Linked DNA regions of Homo sapiens. The protein of the gene in region 2 interacts with the protein of the main gene of each other region in a biochemical or structural test. Each region holds a gene or a part of one and is shown on either strand. Other genes may lie near its edges.

The links. The genes of interacting proteins can lie anywhere in the genome.
Region 1: the proteins of DNAJB11 (region 2) and APOBEC1 form a complex in vitro, tested with the Homo sapiens proteins (one study listed by BioGRID).

Annotation. Positions count from the first base shown.
Region 1 is NC_000012.12:7,655,909-7,659,408, forward strand, and holds part of APOBEC1 (C->U-editing enzyme APOBEC-1), read right to left. Parts: intron 1-3,500. UniProt on the Homo sapiens protein: Cytidine deaminase catalyzing the cytidine to uridine postranscriptional editing of a variety of mRNAs. Form complexes with cofactors that confer differential editing activity and selectivity.
Region 2 is NC_000003.12:186,576,307-186,581,442, reverse strand, and holds part of DNAJB11 (dnaJ homolog subfamily B member 11 isoform 1 precursor), read right to left. Parts: intron 3,776-5,136; coding exon 3,643-3,775; intron 3,459-3,642; exon of another isoform or gene 3,376-3,458; intron 73-3,375; coding exon 1-72. UniProt on the Homo sapiens protein: As a co-chaperone for HSPA5 it is required for proper folding, trafficking or degradation of proteins.

The sequences.
Region 1 (3,500 bases), on a different chromosome or scaffold from region 2:
GTTCCAGGTTACTGTGAGCTATGATTATGTCACTGTACATAGCCTGGGTGATACAGTGAGACCCTGTCTCTTAAAAAATTAAAATTTTATTTCATTTGTTATTTTTTTTGTGGAGGCGTGTTCTCTCTGTGTTGCCCAGGTTGGTCTCAAACTCCTGAGCTCAAGAGATCCTCCTGCTTCAGCCTCCCAAAGTGCTGGGATTACAGGCATGATTCACCATGCCTAGGCCAAATTTTTTTTTTTTAAAGAAAGAAATAAGGAAATAAATGGAAGATGTGTATTTGAGAATTTATATACCGCAGGCCTGCTGCTCCCCTGCATGACCCTGGTCAGATTACTCCATGGTTATGAAATCATGCCTCACCTGGCCTACAAACTAATCAGTGTCACTCCGTGGAAGAAAGTCTGGGCTGGAAAGGACAGAGGTTCAGTTTCCTGGGGTGCAGTGTGAGTGGCCCCGGCTTTGGAGTGATCTAAGCAGTACTTTGTTTAGATGGCTCTCCTGGCCCTTATCATCAGAGGAATATGGACCCCGCACTCTAGAGGAGGAAGTAAAACCAGGCAAAACCACGTCCTCCATTCAGACTCTCAAAGGTGGTTACAAACTTAAAATGGTCCATGAATCTCAGTCTAGTCTAAAGAAGCAACACAGTGTTGCAATCAAGAGCCAAGGCTCTAGGGTCAGAGAAAAATGGGTTATAATCCCAGTTTAGCCAATTACTTGCTCTAACACATTTGGCAAGTTTCCTAACCTCTCTAGACCTCAGTTTCCCCATTTGTCAAATGTAGACCCTAAGATTGCCTATTCCACAAGGTTGTCGGAAGACTCACGTAACACAATGAATGGAAAACATTTGCAAGGTGCCTGACGCAGCAGATGCTTCATAAACGTTAAGCACTGTTATTACGGCAGCCTTTCAGAGGGTTAGAAAGATGCCTGTTTTATGTTTATTTCAATGGCATGAACATCATTGACATTAAATGTCAACTTGGGAATTTTGAGGAGGTGAGAGCCTCCTGTGTAAGAATACTTCTCTTTCTTATCTCTACTATTCGGTTTGCCATGCATATGCTTATGGATTTTTAGTTTGGGTTGCAAAAATACCCACTTGGTGTCCTAGTGTGTTGTATATACGTGTGTGTGTGTGTGTGTGTGTGTGTGTGTGTGTGTGTAAATAGCTATTTAACAGAGGAAAAAGGGAACTAATAATACTGGTAACATAAACATCTCAATTACATATTTGGCATCCCAGCCAGAATCATTTGAACCAACTGCATTTCGTACTAAGTTACTACCCTTGAATTGAGCCTCATGTGTATGTTTCCTCGCCATGACTGCCAAATTGTTAGCTGAATGTCTAGTTGCATAACATAGAACCTAAGTTGAGCCAGTCCTTGGAATATGTCTCCAAAGTCAGAACACTTTTGAAGTGACTCTGAGGCTTTTTGCACCTTTAAGGCTGGAGAGAGGTGGATTGCACACTTTCTGACGTTTTATTTTTCATATAGAGGGCTAGCCATATACTGTGAAGTATGCTTTCTACGGTAGGCCCAGGCCATTCCCATGAAAAGAAAGTGAGCAAGGGCTGTGGAAAACTGAAGATAAGCCTGCATCTAGAGCTACTAAATTCCTTAAAATAAAAACAATCAATAACAACAAAACAAAATTAAAAAACAAACCAGGCTGTAGGCAGTGACTCACACCTGTAATCCCAGCACTTTGGGAGGCCAAGGCAAGATGGTCGCTTAAGCCTAAGATATCAAGGCCAGCCTGGGTAAAATGGGGAAATTTCCGTCTCTACAAAAAGATACAGAAGTTTAACCAGCTGTAGTGGTGCATGCCTGTAGTCCCAGCTACTAGGAAAGCTGAGGTGGGATAATCACTTGAGCCCAGGAGGTTGAGGCTGCAGTGAGCCATGAGCATGCCACTGCACTCCAGCAGGGGCAAGAGAGACAGACCCTGTCTCAAAAAAAGATAATAATAATTAAACTAAAATTATAAATAAATAACAAAAAAAATACCCAAAACTATTTCCTGGAAAAGAATTGAAGTCTATGACAAAAATGCATGGACTGATCAAAAGTCCCTAATTTCTTCCAATTTCCGAAATAGAATCACCTGGAAATTGATTTGTTCTGTTTTGTTTTGTTTTGTTTTGTTTTGTTTTGTTTTGAGACAGAACCTCACTCCACCACCCAGGCTGGAGTCCAGTGGTGCAATCTTGGCTCACTGTAAACTTTGCCTCCAGGGTTCAAGTGATTCTCGTGCCTGAGCCTCCCAAGTAGCTGGGATTACAGGCATGTGTCACCACACCCGGCTAACTTTTGTATTTTTAGTAGAGACGGGGTTTCACCATCTTGGCCAGGCTGGTCTCAAACTCCTGGCCTCATGTGATCTGCCCCTCTCAGCATCTCAAAGTGCTGGGATTACAGGCGTGAGCCACCGTGCCCGGCCAAAATTGGGTTTTTATTTCAGGTTTGATAGATGATTAAATAGGTGTTGGAGTCCTTGGTTACAGGTACATTATTTTTCAGACTCAGGCTGCGTTTTGAGAAAGGCGATACAGGAATTGGAGACTAAAGATTTTGATTTATGGCTTGATTACCCAACAGAGGTGTCACAGTGCCAGATGGTCTCAGAGTCAGTGGCATGAAGGAAAAAGGAAGTCTGTGAGACCTCACTGTAAGAGGCTCATGACAATAAAATTGAGTCTGAGAACTCTTCTCAAGCTAATATTTTTAAATAATAATCACTTGGCACATATTGATTGAAAATTTAGGCCAGGCGCGGTGGCTGACTTTGGGAGGCTGAGGCAGGTGGATCACCTTAGGTCAGGAGTTTGAGACCAGCCTGACCAACATGGCGAAACCCCGTCTCTACTAAAAATACAAAAATTAGCCGGGTGTGGTGGCACATGCCTGTAATCCCAGCTACTTGGGAGGCCGAGGCACAAGAATCACTTGAATCTGTGAGGCAGAGGTTGCGGTGAGCCCAGATCATGCCGTTGCACTCCAGCCTGGGCAACGAGAGCAAAACTCCATGTCAAAAGAAAAAAAAAAAAAGCACTTCCACCAAAAAAAGAAAATTTAAAAATATATTTATAGGCCGGGCGCGGTGGCTCATGCCTGTAATCCCAGCACTTTGGGAGGCTGAGGCAGGCAGATCACCTGAGGTCAGGTGTTCGAGACCAGCCTGACCAACATGGAGAAACCCTGTCTCTACTAAAAATACAAAATTAGCTGGGTGTGGTGGCGCATGCCTGTAATCCCAGCTACTCAGGAAGCTGAGGCAGGAGAATTGCTTGAACCCAGGAGGTGGAGGTTGTAGTGAGCCGAGATCGCGCCATTGCACTCCAGCCTGGGCAACAAGAGTGAAACTCCCTCTCAAAAAAAAAAAAAAAAAAAAAAAAAAAAATATATATATATATATATATATATATATGTTTATATTTGAAATTTAAAAATCACACACACACACACACACACAAAAGGAACTACCG
Region 2 (5,136 bases):
CCGCATCTCTTGCCGACAATTGCACTTCCGTTTGCCAGGAGCCTGCCTTGCCACAGGTTTGTTTCTAACTACCTAGGAAGTGCATAAACAACATCAGCTTCTCTCTTGTGTAAAACAGCCTTTCCTTTCCTCAATTGATCAAGGCTCTGCACATATGCCTGGACTGAAACTTCCCCTTCTCTGGCAATCTATCCCTCAGAGATCTAAAGCTGACAAAACTCTTTGAAGAGTACAAATCAGCCCCCAAACAGGAATGAAGCAAACACATACTTAAATGACTCAAATTCTAAAGCTGGAGAAGTAGAGACGGGAGTAAGAAACAAGAGAACCGAAAAATAAAGTGTATGATATCAGCATTTCTAAGCCACAACTAAATGCTACTGAGTTAAAGTACTTCATGTAATGATTATCTTTTAGGAAATCCGAGCTGTGTAAAGCATAACCCCTGAGGAACAATCACTACCTTCAAAACCTGGTATGTGGCTACTATCCAATCCTCTGGTTAACCTACTGAAAATGTCTCCTTATTTCAGGAAATGCAATCCAGGACTATTTTCTGGAGCTATCTCCATTCAGATACTTTAACATGTAGGAAGAGAAACAATGACCATCTCTTTGTAGTTGACTGCAATCAAACATTCTGATCCCTCTAAGAATGTAAAATTGATATATATGCAGAAATGTATTCCTAGTTTTGCCTGTTTAAATAGTCAAACATCTAATCACAAGGTATGTGCTCACGCAGCAGAATGACGAATGCTTGGAGAAAAATCCTTTAAAGCCTACCAACATATGAAAGGCCCAGGTCAACAGAGTAAATTATAGCAACAATAACAGTAATCAGAGCAAACATTTTATAGCACTTACTACATGCCAAGCCATGTGCCAAACACTTTTACATATTCATTTAACCCTCACAACTCTATGAGACAGGTACTGTTATTATCCCCATTTTACAGGTGAGGTAACAGAAGTATAGAAAGGTTAAGTAACATGACCAAGGCCACATGACTAATACATGGCAGAGCCAGGATTCTAAACTAGGCAGTCTAGCTGCAAAGTCCATGCTCCTTAACCATTGTGCTATCCTATTTCTCAAGGTATTTTTTTTTCTTTAAAAAATAATTTACATACAGAAGGAGCAGGATTGAAAACAAGGAAAAAAAGAATTTAGCATGGGGTTACTGAACCAGCAAAGCCATTTACAGCCTTTACAATAGTTGGATTAAAAAAGAGTTTGTTCGGGAACACACTAACAGCAAAAAGTGATGTCTACTGTGTATTAGTGACAACTGCAGAACAGGCTTGGAAGGGAACATGGGCGCTAATTAGGCTCACCTCTTTCCTCCCATCTAAACAACCTCACTGGTTTATGAATATTTTTAATGCCCTTTTCTCCTGCAGCCTCAACAGTATTACAAGTCAGTTGCATCTTCTGTGATTGTCTATATCTCTTCTTTCAATTATTCAGAGAAGCAGCTACAACTAAGAAGAATACGCTTCTTGTCAAGATGGCACATATGCACAGGCTACCGGCTGTCTCCTCCAGTATCCTGGAAAAACTACAAGAAAACATGGATTCCAGGAAACAGTAACTACAGCACAGAATATATGAGAAAATCCCACAGATAGAGGGCTGTTTTGAACTGTTTCCCATGACTGCAGAAAACAAAAGACTCCAGACAGCAAACAAAACAAAAAACACCCCAAGACACCAAACAAAACACAGTTAAAACCAGTGGGCCAGGGCTCAGCCCATGATGCTCTGCAGGGAAAGGTAGTTGCTGGTACCTGTAAGGGAATATCAGCTCAAAGGCCAAGACAGCTAGATACCTGAGAAGGTCTATCATCTGCCCCACAAAAGACAACAAACTGAATAACACATATATTTTAAGCAACTGTACTTTGCTTAAAAAAAGATTAGACAGACCAGGAACTTAAAACAAGCATGATAATACTTAAGGAGGGAAGGCATTAGTAAAATGATATAGAGTAAGAAATAATGCAAGAATCAAGTAGAAATATTATGCATAAAAATATGAGTTGAAATTAAAACACAGCAGATGGGTTATTATTAGAATGGATATAGCTGAAGACTGAAGTAGTAAGCTGGGAGATCAAAATGAGGTACCTCCCAGAAGGAAGCAGTGAAGGATAAAGAAAATTTATTTTTTGTATTTAAAAGAAAGTTAAGAGCAGACAGAAGTAGGAGTGATAGAATTGTAAAAAATAATGAGACATATTTTCCAGAATTTAAAAAAGATGAATAACCTCATATTAAAAGATCCCAGAGTTTTAGCAGAAAATATAGGTGAACAGCTTTCTTATTTTATTTTAAAATTTTTTTCCAGAGATGAGTTTCAGTTATGTTGTCCAGGCTAGAGTGCAGTGGCTATTCACAGATGCAATCACAGGACATGATAGCCTCAAACTCCTGGCCTCAAGCAATCCTCCTACCTCAGCCTCCTGAGTAGCTGAGATTACAAGTGTGCTCCACTGCACATGGCTGCTTTCTTATTTTAGAACAAAAACGAATTTCTTTAAAAAGACACAAAAACTAACCATTAAAGACTGATAGATTTAATTACATTAATTAGTTCTGTTTGCTGAAAATTGAAATAAATCTTAAACATAATGAAAAGACAAGTTACAAACAGATAGCCTATATCTGCATTACATACAGCCAACAAAGAATTAGCAGCAAGAGTGAAGTACTCTTAGAAATCAATAAGCAAGAGGCAAAAGAAAGAACAGGCATTTCACAAGAGAGGAAACAAATATGGCCAATAAACACAGGAAGAGATGCTGATCCTAATTGGTAATTTAAAAAATGTAAAACAAGACCATAATGAGATATTTTATACCCATTTGATGAGCAAAAATTAAGAAGTCTAATAATTCCAAGTATTAGTGAGGCAGTGAATCTATAGGATCTCATAAATTGCATGTAGAAGCATCAGTACAATCAATTTCAAAAGCAATACAGTATTAACTTGTAAAAATGAACATTGGTTCATATTACCCAGCAATTCTACTCTCAAGCATATCCACCCAAGAGATATTCTTGTTCATCTGAACCTGGAAATATGGATTAAAATGTTCATAAAAGCGCTGTTTGGAATTGAATAAAACTGGAAGAAACAAAAATGCCTATTAATAAATTATGGTCACAATATAGCAATAAGCAACAAGGGTGAATCCTAGTAACATAATAGTGAGTGAAAATAACCAGTCCCAGAAAATAATGAATAAAATACCATTTCTAAAAAATCAAAAACAATATAATAAACAATATATTATTCAGGTATTCATATATACATGATAAAGTAAGAATGGCAAAAGAACAATAAAGACATAACTCAATACAGTAGTTACCTTTGAAGGGAGGCAGGGTAATGGAACAGGGAAGTAGCATGTAGGTAGATTAAGTCATGGTAATGTTTTACTTAGTTCTTAAGCTGGGTGATAAAACAATGACATCAGTGTATCATGAACCAAGCATTATAATTAATTCAATTTTGTGCATTTGATCACTCTCTCTTACCCTCAAAAAGACAGAGAAGGTACATATAAACCTCTTATTTTTAGTCAAAAGTGCAAGTTCTGGGAGTCAATATGAACAGCTATATTGTTTGAACTTACTTCCACAAAATTTCCTGCATATACTTCTTCCAAAGTGACTTCTAGATCTACAATAATATCACTTCCTCTTGGAATATTTCTGTCTTGCTGACGAGGGGTTCCTCCAAACATGAAACCAAAATCCCCAAAGAAGCTAAAGATAAGTGCAAAATCATCAGGAAAAAAAAAAAAATCAAGACTCTATGTTTCACAATTAACTCATTTTCTTTACGTTGATAAACTATTGTTTCTATCAATGCATTGTGCAAAACTACAAGGTATTTTTTAATACAATGGAGTCAACTATCATACATAATTTTAAATTTATATACTATCAACCATGTTGTAACTATACGGTCCCTTACTACAAAAAAATCCACTTTTTAACAAAATATAGCCCATACATATAGTACAGTACATACACACACAGTATGCCAATGAATTCAATGTTGGACCCAACCAATGAAATAATAATCTTTCAATATTGGGAAAAATCTGAATATGGTGGACTTATTGAGAAAGAGTATAGTATACATAAACTTGTGTAATGCTAAATGTAATGGTTAATTTAAGAAATTTTTATCGGTAATTTTAACATATGTAGTGTTCTCTTTACATGCTTTTTAGAAGCTAACTTGTTGAAAGAAGCTACTGCTCTACACAAAAATCTTGAGTATGTAATTAAATAAGCTAAAAAAGCATCAGCCTTAGTAAAATCCTAGTGCTTAAGGAGAAGGAAGTTCTAGCCTCTATAAGACCCAAACTAATTTTTGTAAGTAACAAGAGTAACTTGAGATTAACAAAAAAGGTGACCTTCAATCCTACAGGTGGTTTAATCTAATGTTAATTTTTGGTGTTATTAAGAAGCCTTGTATATTAGCATAGCGAAGATGATAACTATATAACTCCCTCTCCCACCAACCAACTCAGGTGAATGAATTCCCTGAATCTTAAATAAAGGCAAGGGGAAAGAACAGGGTGGGGGCTGGGGAAGCTGTTTCTCTTTCTGGTATTCCCTAGGGATCACTTCAGCCAGCCAAATTGATCCTGGCGGGGGGAAAAGATGTCCTAATCATGTTACTCACACATCTTTACAGACCCTAAAAATCTACTCCCCCACCCCAGGCCCCTCAACCAAGCACTAAATGGTGGTAACTACTATATGCAACAGTGATTCTTACTTCTTTTGGGGAAGGGTTCACAGAACCCTTTGAGAATCTGAAGAAAACAATGAACTCTCCCCATAAAAATGCAGATTCGAACATCTTTTTGTTTATAATTTCAGACCTGAAACCCCAGATTAAAGTCTCTTAGTATATGTAATCATCAGGGAATGTGGAAATTCAAATGCTCAATAAAGAGAGGTTCAAAGAGTGAGGAAGAAAGTGTTTATTATTCCAACCACCCAGCACTCCCAGAAAGCAAGAGATAAAGGTCCTCTACCCTAATTCCTTCCCCTAATGCTGGTTATTATAATCACCCTCACTTGTTGATAGCACGAAAGAGAGGCAGCTC